Homo sapiens: one gene and its partners. The protein of the gene in region 3 interacts with the protein of the main gene of each other region in a biochemical or structural test. Each region holds a gene or a part of one and is shown on either strand. Other genes may lie near its edges. The genes, in order: PDLIM2, ADGRA2, SIPA1L2, MMP24, KIRREL1, KCNT1 and DENND5A.

Region 1 (4,089 bases), on a different chromosome or scaffold from region 3:
TCTGGACTCCTGGGCTCAAGCAATCCTCCCGCCCCAGCCTCCGGAGTAGCTGGGGCTCCAGGCACATGTCACAGCACCCAGCTACACAGTGATTCTCAAAAGGCAGCTGTGGGACCCTGAGACTTGTGCACCCGTGGGACCACAGCCTCATTTGTAGACTAGAACGTCAGCTCCATAGGGTCAGAGGTGTCACTCTGTTTTTCCACGATTGCATCCCCAGAGCCCAGATGAGTGTCTGACATGAAGCAGCTGCTCGACAAATATTTGCCGAAGGAATGAGCAGAGTCATCAAGGTCAGAGAAGGGAACTCAGAGCGTCTAGTCTGACCTGAGGCCCAGGGAGAGGAAGGGGGGCTGGTCCAAGTCGTCAGGCAGAGGTGGGACCGACCCAAGTGAGTCTCCCCACACCCAGCTCTGGGCTCGTGACCCACAAGCCCCATGCCCAATTCAGCGGGTGTAGGCTGGAGCCTGGGAAGTTGCATTTCCAACAAGTTCTCAGGTGTTGCCGCTGGTTTGGGAGCCATGCCTCTGTACCTCCCACACCCTTCATTTTCCTGGACTGGGGGCAACACGATGGGGAAGCTCGGGAAGGCTTGCCCTTGAGCACGTGGGTCCTGCTGAGACCACAGCCCACCAGAGGTGTCGCGGAACAGAGCCAGGACTGACACTGACCAGCCCTCTTGAAACAAGCTCATTCCTGGCTCATCTCAGAACAAAGGTTCCCCCTAAAAAATCCCCCAGCCCCAATACATCAGCCGTCGCCCGGACCAGTGTTTCTCCATCTCCCAGCATGTCGGGCCTCCTGCTCATCCTTCCCTAAACCCTCTCACCACCACCTCTAACGTCCAGCAATACTCCTCACACAGCCTTCCTTCCCCTCCCCTCCCAGAACGCCTCCTGCTTTTGTAATTAATACCACACTGCTTAGTGCCTAATTGCTCCAAAATTGTTTTGCAAGTTTGCCTTATCTCTACAACTGCATCTTCAATTCCTTAACAAGGGGACCCATGGAATATATCTCTATGGCCACAGTGCCAGGCTGGCCTCTGGGTGGGCACGCAGCGGGTCACTAGGCAGCCGCTGTTCGGAAGGCCCCCAGAAAGATCCTGCTCCTTCCTCCTCCAGAGCCTCTGGGTTCTAGTGCCCTCCCTGGCCACCCCCAAAGGCTCTGCTTTCTGGAATGCAGAATCAACCCAAAGGTAGGGCTCAGCAGCTGGGCCATATCCCCATCACCCCAAAGGCTGGACGTGCCCCCCACGCCGTCCCCAGCAGCTGCGGCCCAGGGCTGTTGGCTGCCTCACTCCCTCACCATCCCCCACCGTTGAAGAGGAGAAATACCACCCAGGAAGGGGGTTAGGCTGTCACCAGGGGCCACTGGGACCTGGCTGAAAGAGAGTCCAGGGGAGCTGGCGGGGGTAGGGGGAGGAGGAGACAGAATAAGCCAAGAGCGCTCAAGGCAGAACCGCAGTCCCACTGGGGCATCTCTGGGCTGAGTCAGAGGAGGAAGGGAGGGTGTGGGTGGGAGTCAGGCAGGCCCGGGTCTTGGAATGGGGAGGAATGTGTTCGAGAGATGCAGCCAGAGACGAAAGGGAATCATCCCAACAACAGCAGCGAAACTATTTCAGCCACAGCCCAAGAGAAACATACTGGGCAGGGAGGAAGTCAGCAGGATGGGAGGGGAGGGGGATGAGGGGAGGGGTGCAGGAGATGGACGGGCTACTGGGCACTGCTGGGCAGGTCTTGGGCACAGCACAGGTGGCCCACGACCAGAAGCATGGCCTCCCTGGCTCAGGAGCAGAGCATGCCTGTGGCCAGGAGAAGGAGGCCATGGCTGCCCAGGTGGGCCTGGCCGCCTGCAGTCCCGGGGCACTGGCAACCCACAGGAACGGGAGGTGCTTCTGTTCCTCCAGCCTGTCCTCCCCCAGGGAGCCTCACCTGTCGGCTTCCAGGGCGGCCTGAGTAGGACAGGCGGTCAGCAGCGGGGAGGCCCGGGGAACATGCCAGACTCTGGAAGCTGAAAGTGGGAAAGGGACAGTGTGTGCCAGGGCCACCCCCAGCCTGCCCAGGGAGGATGCTGCCCCGGGCTCCCAAGCAGAGCTCCTGAGACTCAGAGGAGCCAGCCTGGAGCTGGCAGCGCAGGCGACCAGGGTACCCACTCACAGGCACACTCACCTGCGGCTGATGGCTGCCTCTCCAGTGAGGGAGCTGCTAGAGGGTGGTGGTGAGAAGGGGCTGCCGGCCCTCGGGCTGAGGGAGGTTGGGCTGGAGTAGGAGGACCTTAAGGAGGACTGACTCTCAGTGTATGTCCTCACGGAGCCCTGTGGAGAGAGTGACTGTGTCAGGAAAGGCAGGGCTGCCCCGCCAAGGCCGCCCTGCCCTCGGGCCTCACTTTCATGCACCAGTGATCAGGGTGCTGAGGCTGTCAGGGGAGGGCACCAGCTTACCTGGAAGCGAGTCGCCAGCACTTCCAAGGAGCTGTCCCCATTGGTCTGCCCTGGAGACGTAGCCTGAGACCTGAGAAGGCAACAGAGGGAGGGAATGTCACAGGGGCCCTGCACCCTGCAACCCCCAAAAGAGGCCAAAACTGTTCCCAGATCTAGTTCTCAACACCAGTAAAAGCTACAGAAAATTTGGACATCCGGTTGTCAACTTTTAACTTTGTCAAACTCAAGACAAACAACTATCATCAATGACAACCATGGTTCCTTAAAAGAAAGGACAGTTGGCCAGGCACATTGACCCACGCCTATCATCCCAACGCTTTGGGAAGCCAAGGCAGGAGGATCACTTGAGCCCAAGAGTTCAAGACCAGCCTGGGCAACATAGGAAGACCTCATGACTACTAAAATTTTTTTTTAAGTAGCTGCACATGGTGGTGCATGCCGGTAGTCCCAGCTACTTGGGAGGTTGAGGTGGGAGGATCGCTTGAGCCCAGGAGATGGAGGTTGTAGTGAGCCGTGATTGTGCCACTGCCTTCCAGCCTGGGCAACACAGCGAGATTCTGTCTCAAAAAAACACCAAGGCCGGGCACGGTGGCTCACGCCTGTAATCCCAGCACTTTGGGAGGCCAAGGAGGGTGAATCTCTTGAAGTTAGGAGTTCCAGACCAGCCTGGTCATCAACAAGGTGAAACCCCATCTCTAATTAAAAAAAAAAAAAAAAAAATTTAGCCAAGCCATAGTGACGCATGCCTGTAACACCAGCTACTTGGGAGGCTGAGGCAGGAGAATTGCTTGACCCAGGGAGGCAGAGGTTACAGTGAGCCAAAATTGTACCACTGCACTCCAGGCTGGGCGACAGAGTGAGACTCCATCTCAAACGACAGTAACAACAGCAAAACCCACCCCAAAAAAAGAAAGGATAGTTTGGTTCTAAAAAGTAGAACGTACATAACTTCATCAGAAAGTTCAAACATTCAGTTTTATTAGAGAGTCCTCACATTATCCTGCCCTTTTTTTTTTTTTTTTTTTTTTTTTTTTTTCTATTTTGCCTGGACTTTGTCACTGATATCACTCAGCCTCGGGTTTGTAGATTGATTTGGGGGAAGATTACTGATTTTTTTGTTTTTTGAGATGGAGTCTCGCTCTGTCACCCAGGCTGGAGCGCAGTGGTGCAATCTCGGCTCACTGCAACCTCCACCTCCTGGGTTCAAGCAATTCTCCCTGCCTCAGCCCCCCAGGTAGCTGGGACTACAGGTGCCCACTAGCATGCCCGGCTAATTTTTGTATTTTCAGTAGAGACGGGGTTTCGCCGTATTGGCCAGGCTGGTCTTGAACTCCTGACCTCAGGTGATCCGCCCGACTCGGCCTCCCAAAATGCTGAAATTACAGGTGTGAGCCACTGCGCCCGGCCTGATTACTGATTTCATAGAAATAATCCTTTATATTTTAACCCATGGAGAAACTGAAACCCAGAGAGGGAAAGTGAGCTGCCTCAAGTTCTAGAGCCCACGGTGACTGGGCCAGCTGTGCACCCTGCCCACTGGAGGCCAGGGTGCCTTTGAGCGCGTCACTCCTGATCCCTTTCTCAGGGGTCTCCCCAGTTAAACAAAGGGCGAGACCCGCCTGCCTCCTTCCAGACAAGTAGGCCCA
Region 2 (4,103 bases), on a different chromosome or scaffold from region 3:
CCAGCGCTGGCTGCCCCGGGTGGTGTGCAGCTGCTTGTACGGGGTGGCAGCCTCCGCCCTGGGCCTCTTCGTCTTCACTCACCACTGTGCCAGGCGGAGGGACGTGAGAGCCTCGTGGCGCGCCTGCTGCCCCCCTGCCTCTCCCGCGGCCCCCCATGCCCCGCCCCGGGCCCTGCCCGCCGCCGCAGAGGACGGTTCCCCGGTGTTCGGGGAGGGCCCCCCCTCCCTCAAGTCCTCCCCAAGCGGCAGCAGCGGCCATCCGCTGGCTCTGGGCCCCTGCAAGCTCACCAACCTGCAGCTGGCCCAGAGTCAGGTGTGCGAGGCGGGGGCGGCGGCCGGCGGGGAAGGAGAGCCGGAGCCGGCGGGCACCCGGGGAAACCTCGCCCACCGCCACCCCAACAACGTGCACCACGGGCGTCGGGCGCACAAGAGCCGGGCCAAGGGACACCGCGCGGGGGAGGCCTGCGGCAAGAACCGGCTCAAGGCCCTGCGCGGGGGCGCGGCGGGGGCGCTGGAGCTGCTGTCCAGCGAGAGCGGCAGTCTGCACAACAGCCCCACCGACAGCTACCTGGGCAGCAGCCGCAACAGCCCGGGCGCCGGCCTGCAGCTGGAAGGCGAGCCCATGCTCACGCCGTCCGAGGGCAGCGACACCAGCGCCGCGCCGCTTTCTGAGGCGGGCCGGGCAGGCCAGCGCCGCAGCGCCAGCCGCGACAGTCTCAAGGGCGGCGGCGCGCTGGAGAAGGAGAGCCATCGCCGCTCGTACCCGCTCAACGCCGCCAGCCTAAACGGCGCCCCCAAGGGGGGCAAGTACGACGACGTCACCCTGATGGGCGCGGAGGTAGCCAGCGGCGGCTGCATGAAGACCGGACTCTGGAAGAGCGAAACTACCGTCTAAGGTGGGGCGGGCGACGCGGTAGACGGGCTGGCCACGCGGCTCGTTCCCCCGCTCCTCGGGGCCCTCCAAGGTGTCTCCGTAGTCAGCAGGTTGGAGGCAGAGGAGCCGATGGCTGGAGGAAGCCCACAGGCGGATGTTCCCCACTTGCCTAGAGGGCATCCCTCTGGGGTAGCGACAGACAATCCCAGAAACACGCATAATACATTTCCGTCCAGCCCGGGGCAGTCTGACTGTCGGTGCCCTCCCAGGAACGGGGAAGGCCTCCGTCTGTGTGAAAGGGCACAGCACATCCCAGGTGCACCCTCCCCAAGTACTCCCACCCCGCCTACTGTCCATGCGGCCTCACTGGGGGCCATCAGCCTCACCAGCAAAGCAGAGATGAGAGCGTGGGAACTGTGTTCTTTCCTCCCTGCCCTCTACTGATTTCAGCCCAGCCCCTGCCTAGATCCTAGGTCCCTTTTCCTCCCGAGTTTGGCTGGCACGAGAGCTAGCCCAGCACATGAAGCAGGTGATGTTAAGTCACAAGGTGCTGCTTTTCAGATCCACTATGCAAGAGGGGAGGGTGGGGCCACGTGAAAGGCAGCTCTAGACATCAACCAGTCCTGGGGGAGGGGAGTGGGAACCGGGCACAACTAGGAACAATGCCACCATTCCCACAGGAGTGGTACTTAAACCAGACAGCAGGGTTCAGAGGTGGCACACCGGGACAAAGCTGAGGCCCTGCACCTCAACAGCTGACTGCCAGGTGCCTGTGGGTGAACTGAGGGGAGTAGAGGGAGAGGGCAGGTGGAACTGGGGCAGAATCTAGTCATGCCCTAAAGCTAGTCCTGTAAACAATGGTGCCCCAGAAAGCTGCAGGTGGTGTTTGGAGAAGCAGTTACTTTTCAGTTACAAGACCCATCTCCCTAGTCTCAGCCTTACAACACCACGGGACTAAGGAAGAGCACTTCCTTGCCTCCGTAAGGCCAGAGGAAGAACCATCCCAATCATTTGATCTCCAGCTCCACAGTAGAGAGAAACCTACAAAATGTCAAACCAGCTTCCCGACTCCCAGGAGCTCAAGCCAAGCCCAGAGGCAGTGGCTGGGGTCCCTGCAGGTCATGAGGGGCCTATGCCTTTACTCCTTTTAAACACCAGCACCCGTCTTTTCCCCAACCTAAAACCAACCACCAGCATTTCACTACAGGACCAAATGGAAACCGAGGGAACCCTGGGTCTTGGGAAGAACAACAGGAAACCAAGGTCTGACCTAGGGTTCCCTCCCAGTCTTCACATCACTCTGGCCTCATCACCAAGGTGACAGAGGACACAGGGGAGGGGGAAAACCCACACACACTCCTTGGAATGGGTCCTGTTATTTATGCTTGCTGCACAGACATATTAGAAGAAAAAAAAAAGCTTTGTATTATTCTTCCACATATGCTGGCTGCTGTTTACACACCCTGCCAATGCCTTAGCACTGGAGAGCTTTTTGCAATATGCTGGGGAAAGGGGAGGGAGGGAATGAAAGTGCCAAAGAAAACATGTTTTTAAGAACTCGGGTTTTATACAATAGAATGTTTTCTAGCAGATGCCTCTTGTTTTAATATATTAAAATTTTGCAAAGCCCTTTGAGCTACTGCCTTAGTCTACCCACTGTCCTTTTGTTATGAGGTAGAGGATCTCATGACACCATACACACAAACCCATCATTGCCTGTGAATGCACGTAGGGCCAGAATTCCCCAGTTCCCGCTCCTCTGAGGGTTGATACTGCTGGGAATGCCAACCACTCCACAAGCAGAGGGAAGCCCCCTCAGGCCTGCAGGAGGAGCCGCAGCAGTGTGTCCAATTCAAACCAGCAGCAAAGAGCCTGACATTTTCCCATCCATCTATGAGGAAAGCCATCTCACAGAACATGGACATAGGCAACTTGCTCTCCCACACCAAGGGATGGGAATCTCTCCTACCTATAGTCATCCCTGCACTCCTGACTTTACTCCAGGACCCAGGGTCCAACTAATGGCAGAGCCCCTCTTGGTTCCTTCAAACAAGAAAAGCAATACCTACGGACTGGTGTACACTTCCATCCTTGGTTATAACAGGAATGTTATCAAGCTGTCAGAACAGGATGAAGTGCTCCCAGTGGATATCCATCAGGGAGGGTTAGGGACACTCGTGGCAGCCTGTCTAGCAGCCTGGGCTCTCTGAAAGTCCCTAACTTCCTGAGGGGTACGCAAATACTGTTCTATTTCACTATCAGAAATGTTCTCATCTCCAGTGACAGTGGAGACAGGGGGTACAGGGCAGATCCGCTTCGGGGACTTCAACATGCAGGGTGGCAAGAGAAGGGCAGGACTGGCCGGCCGCTTCCCCTGGGGTAAACCTAAGGAATTATTTCCCACCTCCCCTTCTCCTTGCCCCTGTCCCCACCCCGGTGGCTCCTTCTCTCGGGTCTCCACTTCTGCTGTCCCATCCCGAAAGGCAGAGCGGACCAGTGACTGGCGGTGCTGGAGAAGGTCACCGATGTGCTTCACCACAGACCGTTTGTCAAGTCTCAGAACTCGTAACCAGGCCAGCTGCTCAGCCATCCGCAGCAGCACAGCCAGCAGCTCCTGCAGGCGGGAGGACGCCGGGTAGGGCAGGTCCACATTTGCCAATTTACAAAATCGGGCAAGGGAACATGAAAGCCGATCTGCAGGCTGCAGCGACTGCCAAGCCAGGAAAGTCGCAGCAGTGATGACGGGCAAGGGATGCCTCCCGGTCACCAGCCACGTCTCATTTGCCAGCTCCACCAACTGCATTGTTCGAGACAGCATCTTCTCTTTGTCTTCCACGTATTTGGCTGGCACAGAAGGTGAAGCTTGGAACAGTTTGAAGCTGAAATAACCAAAATGAGGGTTGGATCTTAATGATATAGGGGCTGCTCTCCCACAGTGAGGAAAGACAGCCCACTCAAGATGGGGAAGCTATTCTGCCCTCAGGAATACTCAAGCTCACTGGGCAGCAAGTTAATAAAGGTAGTGAGAGAAAACAGGGCGTCTTCCGCTTGTTAGGGGAAGGTGGAGGGATGGAGGAGAGCACGAACATTTATTGGGCGCCTCCCAATCACCATTATTCTGAGTGCTTTACAACGTTCTCATTTAATCTACGTGCACGTGCACCATCTTATGTGCATGTATAGTTAAAAAACTTTCCCATAGTCATCCAGCCAGGCAGTAACCAAGCTT
Region 3 (4,089 bases):
TGCAGTGGCGCGATCTCAGCTCACTGCAACCTCCGCCTCCCGAGTTCAAGCGTTTCTCCCGCCTCAGCCTCCTGAGTAGCTGGGATTACAGGCACGCGCTGCCAAGCCTGGCTAATTTTTGTATTTTTAGTAGAGACGGGGTTTCACCATGTTGGTCAGGCTGGTCTTGAACTCCTGAACTCATGATCCGCCCGCCTCAGCCTCCCAAAGTGCTGGGATTATGGGCATGAGCCACCACGCCCGGCCAGATTTTTTTAAATTACCATTTTTCTCCGTAGTTTTACCTGTTCCAAAAAGGAAGAAGATAAAAGTTCACTTTTAAACACACTAATGCTTGCAGGGATGACAAGGAAAGCAAGTGCATATTGCCAGAACCCTGTTCCATGAAGGTAGGTGTCTCGATGTACACTTCTCTCCACCTTCCTCAACACCTCCCAGGGTGCTACAGCAAGGGAAGTACAGATGTGCTAAGCCTTTGCTATTGGAATAACAAAGAGCGTAGTAAGATGAAAGCAGTGTCTCTTGAAACTCTCCTAGGGCCTTGTTCCTCATTCCATGCACATATCCTGTGCCGACTCAACATCCCCTCTGCTCCACAGCTTATCTCAGAAAGAACTAAGTTACGGTGCCAAGCTAAGAGGATGAATTTAGAAAGCTTCACATAACCAGACGCACAGCGACAGCAGCCATCAGACATCACCCAGATTTAACTGCCCTAAAATTAGCAGTCAGAGCAAAGTAGTTACTGCAATGATTGCGTCAGAGCTATTCTGACTGGCAAACTGCCAGTTTTAAACAAATTGTCCTGCTTTCTCTACCAGGGAAACAATATTTTGGAACAGAGCCAGCTAAGCATTTCAGTGAATGTTCAAATTCTAGCTTCTCTATTAATGTTGTATAATTCAATGACAAGGTGAACAAAGTCTACATAGGCTACATCTGCAAGGGTGTTATTTTCTTTGTTGTAAGCACTTATTCTTTGGGTGAGTAAAGTACTGTGGATGAATCCTTTTAAATATTTAAATGCCTGAAATGTATTTAGGGATTCACATTCAACTGGCTTAAACAAAGATTATGCAAATCTAGCAAAATATAAATGCAAAACAAAAATTGTTTTCCTCTTATATTTCTTTTAATCTTGGCAAAGACTCGGGCTAAAAAAAATGTTCTCTGCATGATCACAGAAGGACCCACTCACTTCCCAACAAAGAATATATAACCTGATTCAATCAGTAAAACTGCTACCTCACCACAAATTACAAAATTTCTAGTTAATAACAGACAATTCACTGGCTGAGAGAACAGGGCAGTTTTTAGACCAGAACAATGAGCTCATTAGCCCAACCCTCAGCCTCCACTTCCCCCTTTCAGTGATAGTGAGTCGGTAATTCCGCCATTCTTATATGCACACACCTTCTTTAGTTCCCTCCCTCTCTCCCTTCTTCCTTTCTGTCTTTTCATTCTTTCCTTTCATCATGATTTATTGAAACCTACCATACCTTACAAGTGAGCTGTAGAATAAAGAACACTATAGCTGGAACCAAGAGAAATGGGTTTAAAACATAAGGACTCAGATTCAGAAAACCACACTTTCATTAAACCTTAGTTTTTGTATCTGTAAAAGGGAAAAAAATCCCACCAGCCTTATAAGGTTCTCGTTAAGTATACATGAGAGAACACAAATGAAAGTTCAAGCACGGTAACATTTTACACTCGCCTTTAAGAATATCTCTCCCCAATTCTTTATTCTCTTCATAAATCAACATTAGTCTCCTTCACTTATTCTTGTCATTTAAAACATTTTTTTTTTTTTGTGACAGGGTCTCACTCTGTCACACAGGTTGGGGTCCACTGGCACGATCAGCCCACCGTAACCTCGAACGCCTGGGCTCAAGGGATCGGCCCTCCTCAGCCTCCCCAGTGGCTAGGTCGACAGGTGTGCACCACCACACTCGGCTCATTTTAAAATTTTCTGTAGAGATGGGGCCTTGCTTTGCAGTCCAGGCTAGTCTCAAACTCCTGGGCTCAAGCAATCCTTGCCTCAGCCTCCCAAAGCACTGGGATTACAGGCATGAGCCACTATGCCCAAATTAAAACATTTTAAATGGGAAAAATGACCTATTATTCCAAACAAATGAGTTACAACGATCCTCAAATAAAATTGGTTGATAAATTGGATGCTTCTACTATCATGTATGCCTTGCTTACAGCACTTATCACAGCATACCTTATACACAAATGTAAACAAATAGGAGTTAGAATGACATCCCTCTAATGTCATATTATAAGAACTAGCACTACGTTAAGATATTAAAGATAAAAGACTTTTACCATATAAAATTAAGACTATGGCTACTGAGCACCTACCACATTTAAGGCATAAATAATATCCTCATGTACTGAGTCAACAAAAGATGCACTATACAATACTGATGGGGTTTTTAAACATCATGATTTCCTGTAGAAATGAACCCTGCTAATGGACTGAGAGCTAAAGGACTACAGACAGTACTACACAATTCAGAAATCCTTTCTGTTCAGTAAGCTTGATTAAGCCCCAGCCAGGGCTTTTAAGTCAACTGCAGCCTCATGGGATTCAAATAGGGCTATGCAGGCATCAGCACAGATGAGACTTTGAAACCTGGGAAAGGTGTGAATCATACTCTCTCATGAAAGGCGGCCACCTAAGGGTGCCCAGGCTCCCAGGAACCACACCCCTCTGAATGGGGCTATAAAGTTCTTGATGTAACAGATGGAACACAGTCCCTCTTCAGAAACTTCCACATTTTTACCAGTTCCATATCAGAGTTCAATCACAGGTCATTTCAAACGACCCAGGAAAGGCATAAATGAGGTATAAACTGTTGTTCAAGATAGATCATGTACAATAGAAATAATGATTAGAACTTGCTCAACAGTATTTAGTTCAACAAAAGCCAAGATAAAGGAAGTTCTTTTACGTTCAACCCACAACTCCCAATCATTTCTTTAACAAATATTTGTTTACTGTGAGCCTATTATGTGGCAAAAACCACCTAAGTGCAGGGAATACAGCAGTAAACCAGAAATGTCCCTGCCTGTTTGCTGCTTATGTTCCATTATTAAAATCGAACAGGAGGATGGGTGGGGGTGGATGGTGCTCGTTTAGCTGGAAGTTACTGGAGATACAAGAGCAGGGCTCCCTGCTGTCTCTCCTCACTCATTCCCAACCCACTAACGGCTGGGAAGCCAGGCATTCCTTGCACTACGGGTGGCTGTGTGCTACAGTTCTGGCCAATCACATACAGACAGAGCTAGGCTGTCAATCTGAACTTTTAACATACCCTGATCCTGGGAATGCTTTCGTCTGAGTGTGATAGTATGATGCTTCTTAAACAGCTGAGTTCAGAACAGGCACAGTGGCTCACGCCTGTAATCCCAGCACTCTGGGAGGCCGAGGCGGGCAGATCACGAGGTCAGGAGATCGAGACCATCCTGGCTAACATGGTGAAACTCCGTCTCTACTAAAAATACAAAAAAAAATTAGCTAGGCATGGTGGCAGGCACCTGTAGTCCCAGCTTCTTGGGAGGCTGAGGCAGGAGAATGGCAGCAACCCAGGAGGCAGAGCTTGCAGTGAGCCAAGATCGCACCACTGCACTCCAGCCTGGGTGACAGTGCGAGACTCTGTCTCAAAAAACAAAACAAAACAAAACAAAAAAACAGCTGAGTTCAATTAGAAACTTTCTAAGGAGAATAGCATCGCCATTACATTAACCTCCTACCCCTCAATAAATGAAACCCCAAACCAAGACCCACAAGCAATTCTGGAAGAAAACAGGCCAAAGTCAGAAATGTCTTCGGGAAAAAGAATAAATACACAGTAAATATAAGGCCCATCAAGAGTGGAGTTTGTCTTCCGCTTGCCTCACAAGACCCTACAGGCTCCCTAGAAATTCCATTTCTCAACTGCTATAAACTCTAACCAGTGATAGTACAACAGTGGTCTCTACACAGGGGCCACACATTTCAAAGATACAAATGCCCTTGAGATGCAGAGAAAATACTTCTACATCTATTTATTTTTAATATTAATCTTCTTAAAATGTACA
Region 4 (4,626 bases), on a different chromosome or scaffold from region 3:
CTAGTCTCCTAACCAATCTCTCTGCCTCCTCTGGTCATTATTCTCTCCACTGGGAGGGGAACTAACATGGAATATCTATTAAGTGTCAAGCACCTCATGCTGAAAGCAATCTTATACAGTAATAGTAGCATCATTTTATAAAAATGGAACAGAGCCAAGATATGAACATAGGTCTGACGCTAAAGCCTGTGCCCTTTTTTCATCTCCAAATTACCACGTAATCATAAAATACTATTTTCACACATCATCCTGCTTAAACACACACATACACACACACACACCACACACACACAACCTTTAATGACCACCCTCCCCCATTTTCCTTCAGAACACAACCCAAATTTATTATCCTAGCATTCACTGTCTTGTACAACTTCCCTCACTTCCCAACACTTTCCTATAGGAACCCTGTGCTCCAGAGAAACTTATCTGCCGCCTCAGGCACATCCTGTACACCCTCAACTTCCTCCCTGAAATGCCCTCTCCTCTCCCCTCCCCTGGTTTAAATCCAGCCTTTCCTTCAGGTCCTAGCTAGAGTCCCACCCTCCTCCATTACACTTTTTCCTAACTTCCCCAGCCCCTCATCAGGTCTCCCTCGACCCCTGGAGCAGCCGCCTGTATCCTTGTTGACACGTGGTGTTTGCCATTCTGTTTTTCTTTGCGTTTATGTTTTCTCATCAAGCTGTAAACCTCTGCACTCCAGGAAATCGGCCTTCTCTTTTTTGTTTTTGTTTTTGGGTGTTTTTTTTTTTCCTTTCAGCATCCCAAGTAGCCCAGAGCCCTACAAATAGAAAGCGCTTGATAAATATGGGTTGTTTTGGATGAAAGATGATCTTCCCAGCTGGATGAGCTCTTTCCCTCTAGGGGTGAGGGACTGAGCTTCACCTCAACTTCACCTAATGTCTCACAGGAATGCCCCCTCTTAAACGCTCCTCAGGTCTTCTCTACCCCTTTCCCCCACCACCCCGGCCCAGGAGAGCCACTCAGAGCTCCCTCTCCGGAGTCACCCTCTCAGACCCAGGGCTATTTCTTTAGCTTGCTCTCGAACCCCGCCTTTACCCCAGAGCCGCTCCTCAGTCTCCTCCCCCAGGCTGCCTCTCAGGCCCCCTCTCCTCCAATGCCACTCCCTAGGACCCTCTCCCCAGGGTTCCGGACCCCCAACCCCGGATATGTTCCCCCAGGGCCATCCAGTTGTTCTACCTCCAGGATTACTGATTTAGCCTCTTCCCCCTCCTGCTCAGGGCTACCCCCAGACCCCGACCTCCAGTTCCACCCCTTCGGACCCTGCCTCTAGAACTGTTCTTTTAGCCTCTGCAACCCCCTCCCCAGCGCCGCTCCGCGGCCCCTGCCCCAGGGCTGGTCGGGGAGCCACTGCCCTCGCAGGTCCCGCCCGGGTGCTGCCCCCGCGCCCCCGGCCGCCCCCCACCGGGGCGGGGCGCGCGGAGGCGGGGGCGCGCTGGCGGCCGAGGCGGCGGCGGCGGCGGCGAAGGCAGGCGGGCCGGGCGCGGGCCCCGCCGCCGGGATGCCGAGGAGCCGGGGCGGCCGCGCCGCGCCGGGGCCGCCGCCGCCGCCGCCGCCGCCGGGCCAGGCCCCGCGCTGGAGCCGCTGGCGGGTCCCTGGGCGGCTGCTGCTGCTGCTGCTGCCCGCGCTCTGCTGCCTCCCGGGCGCCGCGCGGGCGGCGGCGGCGGCGGCGGGGGCAGGGAACCGGGCAGCGGTGGCGGTGGCGGTGGCGCGGGCGGACGAGGCGGAGGCGCCCTTCGCCGGGCAGGTGGGGCTGGCGCGCGGGGCCGGGGCGCGGGCTCGGGGCATCCGGGCAGGGCGGGGGGCGGCACCGGGGACGGGCCTGGGCCGGGCCGCACCTACTGCCGAGGTCGCGGAGGCGGCGCGCCGGGGGTCCGCGCCTTGGGTCCGGGCTGGCGCGGCCCAGGGCGGGGGCTGGGGAGGGCCTCGCCGAGGGCCGCCGAGGCCGGGAGCTGCTTCAGCACCGCGGACAGGGGCAGCGGGCGGGGGCCGAGCACGAGGGTCGGGTTTGTTGTGTTGGCAGTGGGGTGTGTGGCCTGCATGACTATGTGCGAGGGAAACCGTACAACGCCTCGGAGTAAATAGTAAGCGCAGCCAGTCTGTTGTGGGTTGGGAGAAGAAACCGAGGATGTTCAAGCTGGAGAAGGGGGAGGGGGAGGGCGGAGGAAGGACTCGATCACTGTCTTCGTAGCTGAAGGGCTGTCAGGTGGAGGTAGGATAGACTTGTTCTAGCTTGGCCCCACAGGGCAGAACTAGGGCCAGCGGGAGTGGGGGTTGCAAGAAGACAAATTTGGGCTCGATATAGGAAGAAGTTTGTAACAATTGGAGCTGCTCAACCAGCTTAGGAGGCGGCGAGCTGCTCATCACTGGCATGTGCAAGTAAAAGCTCTCGGAGGGGATTGGATGGAGGCATGCATAATGCTTGCATGGATGCATACATCATCATCACAATAATGCCAGCTAGCATTTACTGAACACTCACTATGTGCCAGGCCTGGTGCTATGTTTTATACGAATTATCCAATTCAATCCTCATAACTACTCTATGAAATAGCTGCAATTATTATCCCCATTTTACAGATGGGGATACAGACTCAAAGAGCTTAAGTAACTTGCCCAAGGTCACACAGCTAGTGAGTGATGGAATTGGAATTCTAACCTAGGCAGGCTGACTCTAGTCTCCCCTTATTTACCCATGACCTTATCCTATATCTCATGGGGGGTGCAGTTGGACTAATTTCTCTAGTATCTTCCAACCTAGAGGACTGCAATATTCTAATAAATGATGTTGGGACAATGGTGTTTTGCTGAGGAAAATCAGAGTGATAGCCTCGCCACCCTAAGAGATGGAGTATATTTGTTGAAGCAGGCAGTCTGTTTGTTTAGAAGAATCTGCCTCAAGAGATATTCTTAATTGGGCATGGAGCTCAGGGGGTCATACGTGCACTGAAATTGCGTACAAATTTGTAAGTGCAAATGTGTGTATTTCTAGGCGAGGACCCCTAGATTTCTTCAGCCTCTCAAAGGGTTACAGGTTCCACAAAACAACAAAAAAGATATGGTGTGTAAAAGAACCTTTAGTGCCAGTTGGCAGTTGTCCTCCAAAGATTTTATAATTGCTGGTTGACTTGTTGTGGAAACTTTGCTTAGCCTCTTTGTGTTTTCACATGTGTTTTATCACATGTTAAAGTAATGCATTTCCTAAGTTTATACCCTAGAAGAAAGATTGCTTTAGACTGCCTGAGTGCACAGGATGAGGTGGAAAGACCCTGGCCTGGGATTAAGGAGGCCTGGGCTCTGATCTGACCTTGGCCCCCATTGGTTTGTGTGACCTTGAGCCATTTCCTTGCCCTCTCTAGGCTTGAATTTCACCATGTCTAACATAAAGAGATAGAGCTAGACAATCTCAACTCTGAAACTTTTTTATTCCTACAATATTTCAAGCATTAAGAGGAAGCTAGTCCTTACCTGTATCAGTTTTATAGGCTTTGATTATTCCACCTCTTAGCCTTTGTCTTTTTAAACTTAAGTTTCCCCCTATGACACGAGACCCCTAGAATAGCCACACTCATTCTCTGGGTCATTTTAGTTGTCCTTTTCTAGATACCTTTTGGCCCTAATTTTCAATAGATGTCAACTTGACCATTGTCTCCAGATACAGGACCCTACGGTTTTGCATAAAGGAAGGTTGGTTTCTTCTTTGCTCTCCTGGTCCCATCCTGCTTCCCCCTTCCCTCTGTCAGCTTTCCTGATCTCAACACACTAGGCCACTGCCTTTAGGGAACAATCTATAATAGCTCCCGGAGCCTTTTCCTGGGTCAAAACTGATAGCCTGGAACACAACACCCTGTATGTGGATTATTTTTATCGGAGTGCATTACCTTACATTTCTCCACCTTGACGTTTGTCTGCCATCTTGCATTGCACTCAGTAACTTCCTTCAAGCATTCGCTCACTCTCTCTCTCCCTTCCTCCACCTCTTCCTCCTTCCTTCTCTTTTGGCATAGCATTTCCCTGTCTGAAAGGGCTTAATATGATCTGAAGTCTTGAAATTTTCACTTTGCTATATTTCTTCTGGATCACTTATAAAAAATTTAAGTGAGACAGGTCCCAGCATGGTCTCTTGGGGCCCCCTGCACTCTTAATCCCCTTTCATTCACGGAAGTGACCATTTATATCTATCTATTGTTTTCTAAGTGACAAAAACATCATCCTTAATTTGACAATGACTCCATTTTAAATGTCTAATACATTGTCCAAAACTTCCTGAAAGATAGACAAATTATATCCACTGCTTCTCTCAATAATTTGTGCCTAATTATCCTTTCACTGAACACTAGGGGATCACTTGATTGACACCTTATAGAAATATTGTTGCTTTTAAGCCGGCAGATAATATTGCTTACTCCTCTTTCTGTCTTTTAAGCCCTCTGGAGTCTGTCTCCACCCTACCCCTCCATTAGCAGGCCATATTTCCCACTGCTTATTGATAACGCATCCTTACTCGACAAGCTCATCTCTCCTTTACCCTTAGACAGGCTGCCCATATTTCTCTGGACATTGTCACATAGTTACTTCTGCACCCCTACCCGTTCATTTGAAACC
Region 5 (3,648 bases), about 75 Mb from region 3:
GCCTCTACAACAAAACAAAATAAAAGTCCAAAACAAAATAAAACAAAACATTATCTGAAAACTATTTCAGGTATCTGCAAACACTCCTGAGAAATGAGCAAACTGAAACCCTTGGGAACTCAACTCAGAGAATTTAGGATTTCTCAGCAGGATGGCCTCTGTGTGTGTGCACTGCTGCACCATCTGTTTTTTCATTCTGCTTCACTACAAGTTCAAAAGGTTGGAGACCTTGTAACTTTGCTTTTTACCCAAACCACAGCGTTTTAAATAAACAAAACCAGCCATTCTTACACACTTGTCCCAATTCCTTTGGGATCTAGATCTCAGATTCAAAAGTCTCCCCTTTTCCCATTCCCATAATGCGATTTGGCACAGAACATTTGGATGCTGTTTTCCAATAGCAGAAGCCTCCAGCTGTTTGTCCCTGAACTGCCATAATTGGCCTCAGGGTTCTGCACAAGTGGCAAACTAGAGAATACGTTTTTGCCCCACGGCCTGGAGGTGGCACAAACATTGCTTCTGCAATTTCAATCCAAACCTGTTTTTTCCCCAAACCAGGACTAACACCCAAAGCCAGGCAGGCTTTTAAGTAACTAGCCGTTAATGCATTAAATAACACAAAACATGGTACTTTTTAAAACATTTATATTTATATATATAAAAAAATTAAATATATATAATATATAGTGTGTTTGAGACTAAAAATATAGTACATAATATTTTTAAAAAAAGGAAAAAAAAGTAGAATAGGAAAAGGTGTGAGGGACACACAGATACACATTGCTAAAAACCTACAATGGTTTGTCCTAACAAAAATAATATCTTTTTTTCTCTTCTCTTAATTATCATCATGGATCCATTTATTTTTGGGGTCTGGGTGGAGAAAATTCAACAGGAGCTAGAAATGGAGGTTGCAATGCCAAGAATGGCTGGGTAGAAAATGTGACCACAGGGAGCCCTGGGCCTCTTCTGGTGAAATTGGACTTCTCAAAATTTTCTGGGTCACTGTTGCTAACAAGATTGTGTGGAGTTTTACTGTATTGGGATTTTGGCTGCTCTTTCCCCAGAGTTAGGGTATTCTCAGGGGGGACAGCATCTGAAGAGCTCCAAAAGCAAACAGAAGAGCTCAGGGCCCATCGATACTCAACAAGGCCAGTGGTTGGGGCCAGCAAAAAACCAGGGTAGGGACAGCAGACTGGCAGGAATGAGTGACAGTTCTATGCAAATGGAGTTATTATTATTATTGTTATTATTAATAAGGGCAGGTTTGTACCAGAACTGCCCAGTATGGCCTGTGACTTCTGCGCAGCAATTATTTCTCCAGGGACAGGGCCTGAAGCTACCTCACAGTGATGCAAAAAAATGGGATTCCCCACTAACCCCCACACACACCCCCTTCCTACCAAACCACACATCTCTCAGTCCTCTCCAGCAGCCCAGAGGTGAACGTCAGGACCACGCTGACAAAGATGAGCCAATGCCTTTCACAAAAAGCCTGGCCTTGAGGAGAGGAGGAGAAATACCATAGGGGGATAGGAGGAGGCCAAGAGAAGGGAATGGGATATTTAAATGCTAATTTTACAGCATCTTCACAAAAATAAATGCCTTTCAATTACATCCCTTGGCCTGTGCACTTCAGTGTTCATTATGGCCTCGCCAGGGTCAGGAGCTTCACTAATCCTTTTGGGCAATTCTCAACATGCACAGTGGCCTGTAGAGGCACCAAGCAGTGGCCTGGCTCAGGTCAGACAGCACTAACTTGGGGAAGCCAGGATTTCTGAGGCCAGGGTGCTTGGGGAGGAACTGGAGTTCAGCAGTAGGGACAGAACCTTCCACACAGCAAAGAACAAGGCAGTTCGCTCCAAACGGGTCTTGGCTTTAATGTGGTTTTCTTCAAACCCAAATGGCTGAACATTGCTATGAACATAGGTCATGTATATTGAGACACTGATTCCGTTTTATGGAGCCCTGTGGCTCCTGACAGGTTAACGAGAGGGCACGAAACTCCAGTGCGACGTGCTCCATTTTGAAAGCAGATAAAGCTCCCCTCATCAGAGTGAAGAGGAAAGTAGCCCTGCTGGAATAAGGGGAGAGCGTACCGCTTGAAGACAGGGTGCTCAGATGTTTTCATTCCAAGCAAGACAGTGATAACAGCACAGCACTGCTCCCATCCCTGGCCCCTTTCCTTTCTCACTTACTAGGCTTTTTGCTTCATGCAAACTCTGTGGCTGGACTTTGAGGGATCCAGAATTTAGGATATAGGGCGGGTCCTTCACGAGGGAAGTGACCGTGGCTCAGCCAAAATCACAAGATCCTCCTCAAGATCCAGAATGTATTCCAAAGCTGTTGTACCCCTTTCCCTCCACCGGCTCCCCTTGCAAGCTGCTCCTTCTCAGGCAGGGGCAGCTGTGCTTACTCCCCGACCTCTGGCTCCAGGCACCTTGGACTGCAGGCTTCACCTGTTTGGTGAGAAGAACAAGCTGTCCCTGGGCCAGAGGAATGTTCCTAAGGATCAGGGTGGAGGAAGGCTCCTCCCATTTTCCCCTACAGAAGGAGTGCCTGAAACCTAGGCACATAACAATATCCCTATGTGCATACTATGTCCTGCCCTGGCAAAAGGCACCTTTGCAAACCCATCAGAAATGAGTGGGGAGCAGCACAGATGACCCGATAGCCAAAGGATAGCCCCACATCAATTTTACTCTGAGGTTTAGGGTGTATTTTGTGTTGCTGTTTGGGATAAAGGGGTCCCTGGTGGAAACTAATTCACTTCTGACAAGATAATGAAGCCCATGGTGAAAGCTTCTTTGAACAGGAGAGAACCCCCCCAGCCAGCTCTCCAGCCCTCACCATGCTTGCTACTGTTCCCAGTTCCTTGCCAGCAATGGGCAGTCCCATCCCTACCCCCAACCCTATGGGTATAACAAAACCAGAATAGTTTTAGGTTTATGCAACCCTCCCCCTTCATTTTACAGGCCAGACAAATTGGGGGCAATGAACAGAAAGTTAGGCCGAGATCTAACCTTTGCAGCTTCAGGACTGGGTCCTGGGTCTCCTGACCTTTAGTCCCTTGCTCTTTCCACTAAAACAAGCCACCAAAGGTGATCAGGATCACCAACTACTGAGGCATCACCATGTTGCAGGACTCCAGGATTCGACAGCAAAGCTCTGTGATCAAGGACGCCTTCCACTCCCCAGAAAAGCTATTCCACTGGGCCCATCAGGTAGGTTCCAATTCAGATTCTGATGCACCAACACGTAAGTTACAGAGGGCAGAGACTACCTTGGTTGCTGATGCTTCCCTGTGCCTTCCAGGGTGCTTGTTTGACACCCAAGAGGCTCCAGTTACCTTGTTAAGGAGTAGAGGACAGTGAAGTAGCTCTGTGTCAGGCTTCTGGAAACTAGGCTTCCTTTCTCAACAATTCTCCCTGCACCATCAGCTCAATTACCTAGTAACCTTAGGCCCTCTCTCCATCATTTCAGTAGAATGAAACTAATACTTAAGCTAAAAGGGGATAAATAAGAGAATCTAGCCAAACCCAAAACAAAAATGAATTCTTTTTGGAATATGCATGTTTTAAAAGCCACCATCTTTAGACTTCAAGTCTTTGGATTCCCCCATGGTTTCTGGTTTTTGTGAAAATAATA
Region 6 (4,089 bases), on a different chromosome or scaffold from region 3:
AGGCTGCCGGGAGGGTCGCGGGCTTTGGGGCAGGGGCTTAGGAAGAGGTGTGGGCTCTGCAGCTTGGGGCCTGCGTGGGAGCAGCTGGGGGTGTTAGGGAAGAGGACGACGACAGACCCCAGGGTGCATGTGCCTTCCTCCTCTGGAAAGAATGTGCCTGGTTTCCTCCTGAGCACAGATCGCCGGGCCACCCACCCTGCCCGGGCCTGGTCAAGGGATTCGCCAGGCTGCTGAGGGCAGCTCCCTTCGCCTCTCTGAGCCCTTATTTCTGTGGGTCCGGCCTGGGACCCATCTGGACCCCAGCACATCCTGGCCTTGCCCTGAGAGGTCACCCCCTCTGCGTGTCAATTTCTCCATCTGCAGATGAGCCCTGATCCCTCTTGCAAACACACCCTTTGGAGGCCCCGAACCTGGGGAACGTGGGGTGCCAGAGCCTGTGGGTCGTGGGGTGCTGGGAAGAGGTAGGCATCCCACCTGGGTGGCACCTTCAGAAAGGCCTGGGAGGCTGGGGGCTGGTCAGGCCAGATGGGCATGGGGGCTGCCTGCCTTGGTGGGGCCTGGGAGGGGGCGGGGGTGCACCTGGTGTCCAAACTCACAGGCTACTCCCCCCAGGCCTCAGCTTCCCCACCACCAGTGCAGGAGGGAGTGAGTGTCAACAGCCTTCTCTGAGCCGTGCTGGGGCCGACACATCCGTGGGACCCGCTCCTGCCTCGGCTTTCCCAGGGCCCTGTGGGTGGGTGGGTGGGTGGGGCCTGGCAGGCTTCTCCATGTGAAGCTGCGATGTTCTGGTGCTCCGCAGAAGCTGCGTGGGCACGGAGGGGTTGCTTACCTGGGCTCTGAGGTCGTGGGGCTGCAAAGGAAACAGGCGCAGTCTGGGACCTGTGGGCGCACCCCTGCCCCCCACGCCGCCTCAGCCTGGGGTCTGCACGGAACATGCTTAGGGCTGGTGGGCACGGTGCCTGCTGCTGTGTGGACTGCAGCACAGGGGCTGCCCGTATTCTTCCTGAAGACTCCCCTGAGCCTCTCTGCCCCCGGTAGGGGTCATGGCTGCTCCAGCTGGAAGCGCTACACGTGGGCACACGGACCAGACGGAAGGAGCTGCCAGCAATAGCAAAGCTGATCTAGCCCAGGTCCCTGACACTGAAGGTGGGGATGCTGTGGGTCACACAGGACAGGGGCTGCCACAGTCCCAGCCCCCGGAAGGTGGGGATGCTGTGGGTCACACAGGACAGGGGCTGCCACAGTCCCAGCCCCCAGGCTGCCCCAGAACCTCCGAGGTGGAGAAGACGTGGCTCTCTGTCCGGTAGATGCCAATGGGGATCTCGGCGCTGGAGGAGCAGAGCTTCTGGAAGAGGCGGCCGTACGTGCGGATCCACAGGTCGCCCTCGGTGATTTTCATCTGCAGGGTGGGAACCCTGAGTTGGCTGGGGCAGGTGGCAGCACCCAGAGCCTCCTGGCCACCGTGAATCAGGGGCAGGTGCCCATCCACCCACTTGGACAGCCCAGCACGCCCCCAGCCCAGCGCAGCCAGGGGCACTTACGGCACAGAGGTACCCCGAGCCCGGCGTGGTGTCCAGGCCCAGCAGCAGCCGGGTGATGGTGATCATGTAGTCCTTCACGAAGGACTGGCCAGGGAGGGAGGGAGGGAGGGAGGGAGGGAGGGAGGGAGGGAGGGAGCCACAGTGAGGCACGCGGGCACGGGCGTGGGACACAGGTCCATACCCCACCGGCCACGGGCTCGCCACCCCTCATGCATACACACACACAGAACCACCAGGTCCCCAAGCACCACATGACCCACAGGCAGAGTTCTGGGAGGCCTTTTCTAAGAAAACTCCCTTGCCAGGCACCCATAGGTCAAAAAGGGCCCAGAAATCCCTGGGGCAAGGACAGGGCCCAGAGGTCTCCTTGGAATCCAGGGAAGGTCATTCAGAGGGAGTCCTATCATTCAGAACAGGGACCAGGCTGAAGAGCTGAGGGCATGACGGGGGTCCCACCCAGGCGCCACCCTCCTGCTGCCGCTTCCCCGCTGACCTGGTAGAGCAGTGTGTCCAACATGCTGATGCTGAAGACGCGGCCGGCGGCGAACGGCAGGCGGAACATGAAGGCCAGGTTGGAGCCATTCTCTCGCTCCCTCTGTGGGAAAGGAGGGGCCTCAGATGGGCTGGTGCCGAGGTCCCTCCAGTGGCACGGCAGCCACGGGGTCGAGGGCACTGTGTGTGCACCGTACATGTGTGCATGATACCTGTGTGCACATTTGTGCATGGTGTGTGTGTCCACGTGTACACAGTGTGTGTCTGCATGTGTGCATACACCGGCAGGCCTGAACCAGCTCTATCTTCCCAGACACACTCAGGGCCAGAGCCCGGGAGGAGTGATGTGGGGCTCTGATGAGAAGGTGGACTCCCGGCGGCTGCCATGGGCACTGCGCTTGGTCAAGCGCCCTGCTCTTGCCATCCCGAAATTCCAAATCCTCCTGATAATCCTCTCCTCCCCCGGTGTTTTGTAAGTGGTGCCGGAGGGCGTGTGGAGTCTGGGCTGAGGAGGAGCAAGCATCGGGCTCCCTGCTGTCCTTGGCCTCCCCGTCCCTGTGCTCCAGGCTTGCAATGGACCCACTGAGTTTCCTGGGGCTCCCGTAACAAATGACCGCAAACTTAGCAGCTAAAACGACACCTGTCTCCTCTCTCCCGTTTCTGGAGTCGGGAGTTTGAGGTGTCTCAGGCTGGATCCAGGCCTGGGCAGGGCCCCGCTCCCTCTGGAGGCCTGGGGGCCTCCTTCTCTTGCCTTTTCCAGCTCCTGGAGGCCACCTGCCTTGGCTTGTGGCTCCCTCTTCCCTCTTCTGAGCTGGCCGTGCAGCTTCTTCCCACCGGATGGGGACCTCTGGCCTCTCCCTAGAAGGACCCTGACGGCGTGAACCTGCCGGATGCTCCAGGAGGATCTCCCATCTCGAGGCCCGTGACTTAATCCCATCTGCAGAGGCCCTTCTGTCACGTGAGGCGGTACATCCACGGGCTCCGGACCCGGCCGTGGCCAACTCTCGGGTCATTCTTCAGCGGAGGGCCCCAACCCTGGAGCTCGGCCTCCAAGCAAGTGTGCACAGGCAGGCGTGTGCGCCCACGGAGGCCACACTTCCCCCCGGAACCAGAACTCGATTCACAGGTAAAAGACACGACAGCGACAGGACAAGCAGGCAGAAGCCCCTTTTCCTCCGGGTTCGCCCTTACTCATCAGTGGCCGGTGGGAAGGCTGGGGCGTGAGAAACAGTGGAATTAGTTTCGTGCGGCGTTTCCGCTCTTGGGGCAAGAACCAGGTGCGATGAGCTGCGATGGGCGTGTGAGTTTGCAATCGTGGTGATTTGCATCCAGAATTCCAGCCGTACTTCGCGGAGACGAACGTGAAATTCCAGAACAACTTGCAATTTTAATTTTCCTTTACTCAGAACAACGCTAAACAGGAAACAAGAACCACGACAGGGCCAGAGAGAGACGTGGAAGGAAAGAAAAAGCTGGACGTTTCAGGACCTTCCAGAGATTTCCTCCTGCTTTCTGGACAGGAGGGCTTCAGCAGGGGCTGAGCGGGTGCCATTCACAAGTGACAGTGAAGACAGGAGCACACAGGAGCGGATGAGCCCTTCCTGAGCACGAGACCCCCGGTCAGAGGGAGCAGGACAGGCACCGTGCAGCCCCAGGATGGGCAGAGCCAGCCTGAAGGAAGGCTCCTGGTGAGGAGGAGAGATCACACAGGCTGACCATGTGAAAGCAATGAAGTGGTGGAGGAGTCCTGGGTGCTGGAGACCAGGGGAGGTGGACGGCAGGGGAGGTGGGCCTCAGGGGAGAGACTCCTCTCACACACCGGGGCTCTGAGAGCCTTCTGGAGCCAGCCCTCAAGGGGAGATGCATGTCACCCCACCAGCAGCATCCTTAATAATAGTTTCATTTTTTTGCTTGGTTTTTTTTGAGACAGGGTCTCGCTCTGTCGCCCAGCCTGGAGTGCAGTGGCACAATCTCGGCTCACTGCAACCTCTGCATCCCGGGTTCAAACAATTCTCCTGCCCTAGCCTCCCAAGTAGCTGGGGTTACAGCCACCACG
Region 7 (3,102 bases), on a different chromosome or scaffold from region 3:
GTGTTTCCTATTACTGCCCTTGCCACGTTCTGTTATTTCCTTCCATTAAAGGCTCACTTAAATACCAACTCCTCCCTGAAGTCTTCTCTGATCTTTCTCCTCTACCTTTTCAGCATATTGTATGAATGTACACTTCATTTTTGGACCCTCAAAACCTTCTTCCATGCTCTGTATTTAATTAGGACAAGTAAGCTTCTAAATGTTGGCCAGGCATGGTGGCTCACGCCTGTAATTTCAGCACTTTGGGAGGCCAAGGAAGGCAGATCACCTGAGGTCAGGAGTTCAAGACCAGCCTGACCAACATGGAGAAACCCCGTCTCTACTAACAATACAAAACTAGCCAGGCGTGATGGCGCATGCCTGTAATCCCAGCTACTCGGGAGGCTGAGGCAGGAGACTCACTTGAACCCAGGAGGCGGAGGTTGTGGTGAGCCGAGATCACACCATTGCACTCCAGCCTGGGCAACAAGAGCGAAACTCCATCTCAAAATAAATAAATAAATAAATAAATAAATGGTAAGGGGCCACGTTTTATTCAGCTGTCTTCCTACCAACTTCCATAAGGCCATTTAAATGTCTAATGAAGGAATAACTAGATATACTCTGCTTCAAACTTCCCCAGTGGTGTGATTTTGATCTTTCCTTTCAAAATGGGGCCCCTCTGCCCCGAGTTACATACACGTTGTCATCCCTACCCCGACAGATCACCACACACATAAGTCACGTGTTGCTTAATGACAGGGATACAGTCTGAGAAATGTGTCATTAGACAGTTTCGTCACCATGCGAACTTTATAGGGTTCTCATACAAACCTAGATGGTAGAGCCTACTATATGTCTAGCCTGTTGCTCCTAAGCTACAAATCGGTACAGCCCTGTCACCAGCCCCCAGGCCTGCTCTTCTACACTTCTCCTGGAGCTTCCTGCCACAGCAGCCTGAAGAATAAAAATGAAGGAATACTGTGCTGAATACCGTAGGCAACTAAAACACAATGGTAAGTATTTGGGTACCTAAACATCTCAACCTATAAAAGGTACAGTAAAAACAGAGTATAATCTTATAGGACCATCATCCCATAAACAGTCCGTCACTGACAAATGTTGTTACGCAGCACATTTTATGCAGTGTGTGACCATACACGATACACAGAGGAAATTCAGGGCTTCTAGGAAACCTTCTAAGGCCTCATCTCCCTAAGGGCACCTGATGAGCCATTCCTCACCCCTGCACTGCACCAGGCCTCCAACACCACCACCAAGGCTAACCGCTGTGCACTCTGGGCCCTGGGTCTGCAGTACCTGGCTCCCAAGCACACCAGCATCTGAAACTTGCCATCCTTGCCGATGTTCCGGGGAGTATTGTTGATTGCAGTGACAAATCGGCAGAAGTTCCGGGCTCTTGTATGCCAGTTTTCCTCAGGGACTACTTCATTCTTCTCTAATGTCTCATAATAGGTTTGTGCTTTTTCTGTGAAGAGTAGAAAAGCTTGCCAGTGAAAAGGCTCTCAACACCAACCCTGACGGTCCTACAGGCCACTTGCCATGGGCCTCTCCAAGTCCACACAGGTAACTTAATGAGAATAGCACAAGTGTTCTGATGTCACTGGTCATGTTTCAAAATGATCCTTAGCTTCCCTATCCTTATTTTTTAAATTTATGTATGTGGCCCTTGATATAAAGATGTTCTTTTCCCTAGTCTGAAGACACAAAAAATTCTGAGGATGGTTTCTTGCATGAAAATTCTCCATATGGGTGCAACACAGGGCTTGGGGCTCCAATACGCTCAACTGGACTTTGGGATCTATAAGGGGAAAGTGTGAGGACTCAGGACTAAGTCCATACTAAATAACAGATGTCTAGAAGAATCTTTTCTGTGCAATTCTCAAGAGGTAAGCATTTACCAAGGACGGGGAGGAGAGCTCTTGTCACTCCCTTCAAGAAAAACCAGAGCAAACAAATGAGATCTGAGAGTCACCTAATTTGGGTTCTGCCTCTCAGAGTGGTCAGCACCCATGCTATGCTGGTGAGTCCCCTTATATCTCTACATGCTTCTCCCACCCTCATACTCCAGCTCAACTCACCCAGGAAATCCCAAATGAAGACATTTTTGAAGAGCCGGGGCGATTTAAATCCATGCTGGAAAGCCTGTTCCAAGGCCGAGACAAGGCCACACTCTCCACAGAGCAACAGCGTCAGACTGCCTCGCTACGTAAGGAAACAGGGGAGGGTGCCAGGCTTGTCTCAGCCGAGCTGCCCTCCCACCATTGCATCCCTAAACCCACAGCCCAGAGTTGGGAGGGCTGCAAAAGACAGGCTAGGACTTTGTCTGTTTCCCTAACACCTGGCACAGTGCCTGGCTCAGAGCAGCTCCCAGTGAAGAGCTGCTGAATAAATGGATGAAAGAAGAGATGATGGATCTGGGTCACACACAAGGAGATTCTCCACTGGAGGACAAAGCCAGTGTGGCCACTATTCAAGGAGACCCAGGCAAATCTAGAAGAGGACAGGAATAGGCACTGTTCACTAGGGGCCCAGGGACTCTATTGGGTCATCAGTATGGAGGGAAAACAGGGTAACCTGAGGCAAAGGCCCCCAGAGGAAGGAGTCTGCTCCATCTCCAACTAGCTGAGGCACACACTCTACAAGACTCTAGGGTGTCCACAGCACATGGGCCTGGAAGAGCATAACAAGATAATCGGAAAAACAAAATTATTCTCTCTTATTCAATGTAAGGCCCTGGATTGGAGGGCAGGAAGGCTCACCTCTTTCTCAGGCTTATGGAAGTGCTTCACAATGCCATTGACTGCCTCCCCGATGGACTCCTGGATCTGCCCAGTGTTCAGCTCTAATAAAAATCAAGCAGACATCCCTAACCAATCTCTGAGGCTAACAGTGCTTAGCTGCCTGAGCAGGAGACTGAGGACACGGGGAGGGCCCATAGGAGAGGCAGGGCAGCTGGACCCTAGGAAGCAGAGGCGCTTGCCCACCCAGCTTTGCTGATTTAGCTCTTCCGCAAATCTTGGGGGAAAAACACAAAAGCTAACACCTTAGAGTTCTATCTCTAAGAAATGCTGGTAAAGTTTAGTTTCCATTTTACCTTGG

The links.
Region 1: the proteins of SIPA1L2 (region 3) and PDLIM2 interact in a test that uses a peptide from one of them, tested with the Homo sapiens proteins (one large-scale study listed by IntAct).
Region 2: the proteins of SIPA1L2 (region 3) and ADGRA2 interact in a test that uses a peptide from one of them, tested with the Homo sapiens proteins (one large-scale study listed by IntAct).
Region 4: the proteins of SIPA1L2 (region 3) and MMP24 interact in a test that uses a peptide from one of them, tested with the Homo sapiens proteins (one large-scale study listed by IntAct).
Region 5: the proteins of SIPA1L2 (region 3) and KIRREL1 interact in a test that uses a peptide from one of them, tested with the Homo sapiens proteins (one large-scale study listed by IntAct).
Region 6: the proteins of SIPA1L2 (region 3) and KCNT1 interact in a test that uses a peptide from one of them, tested with the Homo sapiens proteins (one large-scale study listed by IntAct).
Region 7: the proteins of SIPA1L2 (region 3) and DENND5A interact in a test that uses a peptide from one of them, tested with the Homo sapiens proteins (one large-scale study listed by IntAct).

What each region holds. Positions count from the first base shown.
Region 1 is NC_000008.11:22,583,245-22,587,333, reverse strand, and holds part of PDLIM2 (PDZ and LIM domain protein 2), read right to left. Parts: intron 2,514-4,089; coding exon 2,444-2,513; intron 2,318-2,443; coding exon 2,172-2,317; intron 2,014-2,171; coding exon 1,935-2,013; intron 1-1,934. UniProt on the Homo sapiens protein: Probable adapter protein located at the actin cytoskeleton that promotes cell attachment. Necessary for the migratory capacity of epithelial cells. Overexpression enhances cell adhesion to collagen and fibronectin and suppresses anchorage independent growth.
Region 2 is NC_000008.11:37,841,461-37,845,563, forward strand, and holds the end of ADGRA2 (adhesion G protein-coupled receptor A2 precursor), read left to right. Parts: coding exon 1-895; 3' UTR 896-3,029; downstream 3,030-4,103. Other genes in the region: BRF2 (transcription factor IIIB 50 kDa subunit), read right to left, coding at 3,030-3,753.
Region 3 is NC_000001.11:232,619,937-232,624,025, forward strand, and holds part of SIPA1L2 (signal-induced proliferation-associated 1-like protein 2), read right to left. Parts: intron 1-4,089.
Region 4 is NC_000020.11:35,225,217-35,229,842, forward strand, and holds the start of MMP24 (matrix metalloproteinase-24 preproprotein), read left to right. Parts: upstream 1-1,473; 5' UTR 1,474-1,522; coding exon 1,523-1,768; intron 1,769-4,626. UniProt on the Homo sapiens protein: Metalloprotease that mediates cleavage of N-cadherin (CDH2) and acts as a regulator of neuro-immune interactions and neural stem cell quiescence.
Region 5 is NC_000001.11:158,097,243-158,100,890, reverse strand, and holds the end of KIRREL1 (kin of IRRE-like protein 1 isoform 1 precursor), read right to left. Parts: 3' UTR 629-3,648; downstream 1-628. UniProt on the Homo sapiens protein: Required for proper function of the glomerular filtration barrier. It is involved in the maintenance of a stable podocyte architecture with interdigitating foot processes connected by specialized cell-cell junctions, known as the slit diaphragm.
Region 6 is NC_000009.12:135,782,071-135,786,159, reverse strand, and holds part of KCNT1 (potassium channel subfamily T member 1), read right to left. Parts: intron 2,137-4,089; coding exon 2,035-2,136; intron 1,626-2,034; coding exon 1,542-1,625; intron 1,400-1,541; coding exon 1,271-1,399; intron 851-1,270; coding exon 830-850; intron 1-829. UniProt on the Homo sapiens protein: Sodium-activated K(+) channel. Acts as an important mediator of neuronal membrane excitability. Contributes to the delayed outward currents. Regulates neuronal bursting in sensory neurons. Contributes to synaptic development and plasticity.
Region 7 is NC_000011.10:9,140,641-9,143,742, forward strand, and holds part of DENND5A (DENN domain-containing protein 5A), read right to left. Parts: intron 2,846-3,102; coding exon 2,763-2,845; intron 2,206-2,762; coding exon 2,082-2,205; intron 1,469-2,081; coding exon 1,300-1,468; intron 1-1,299.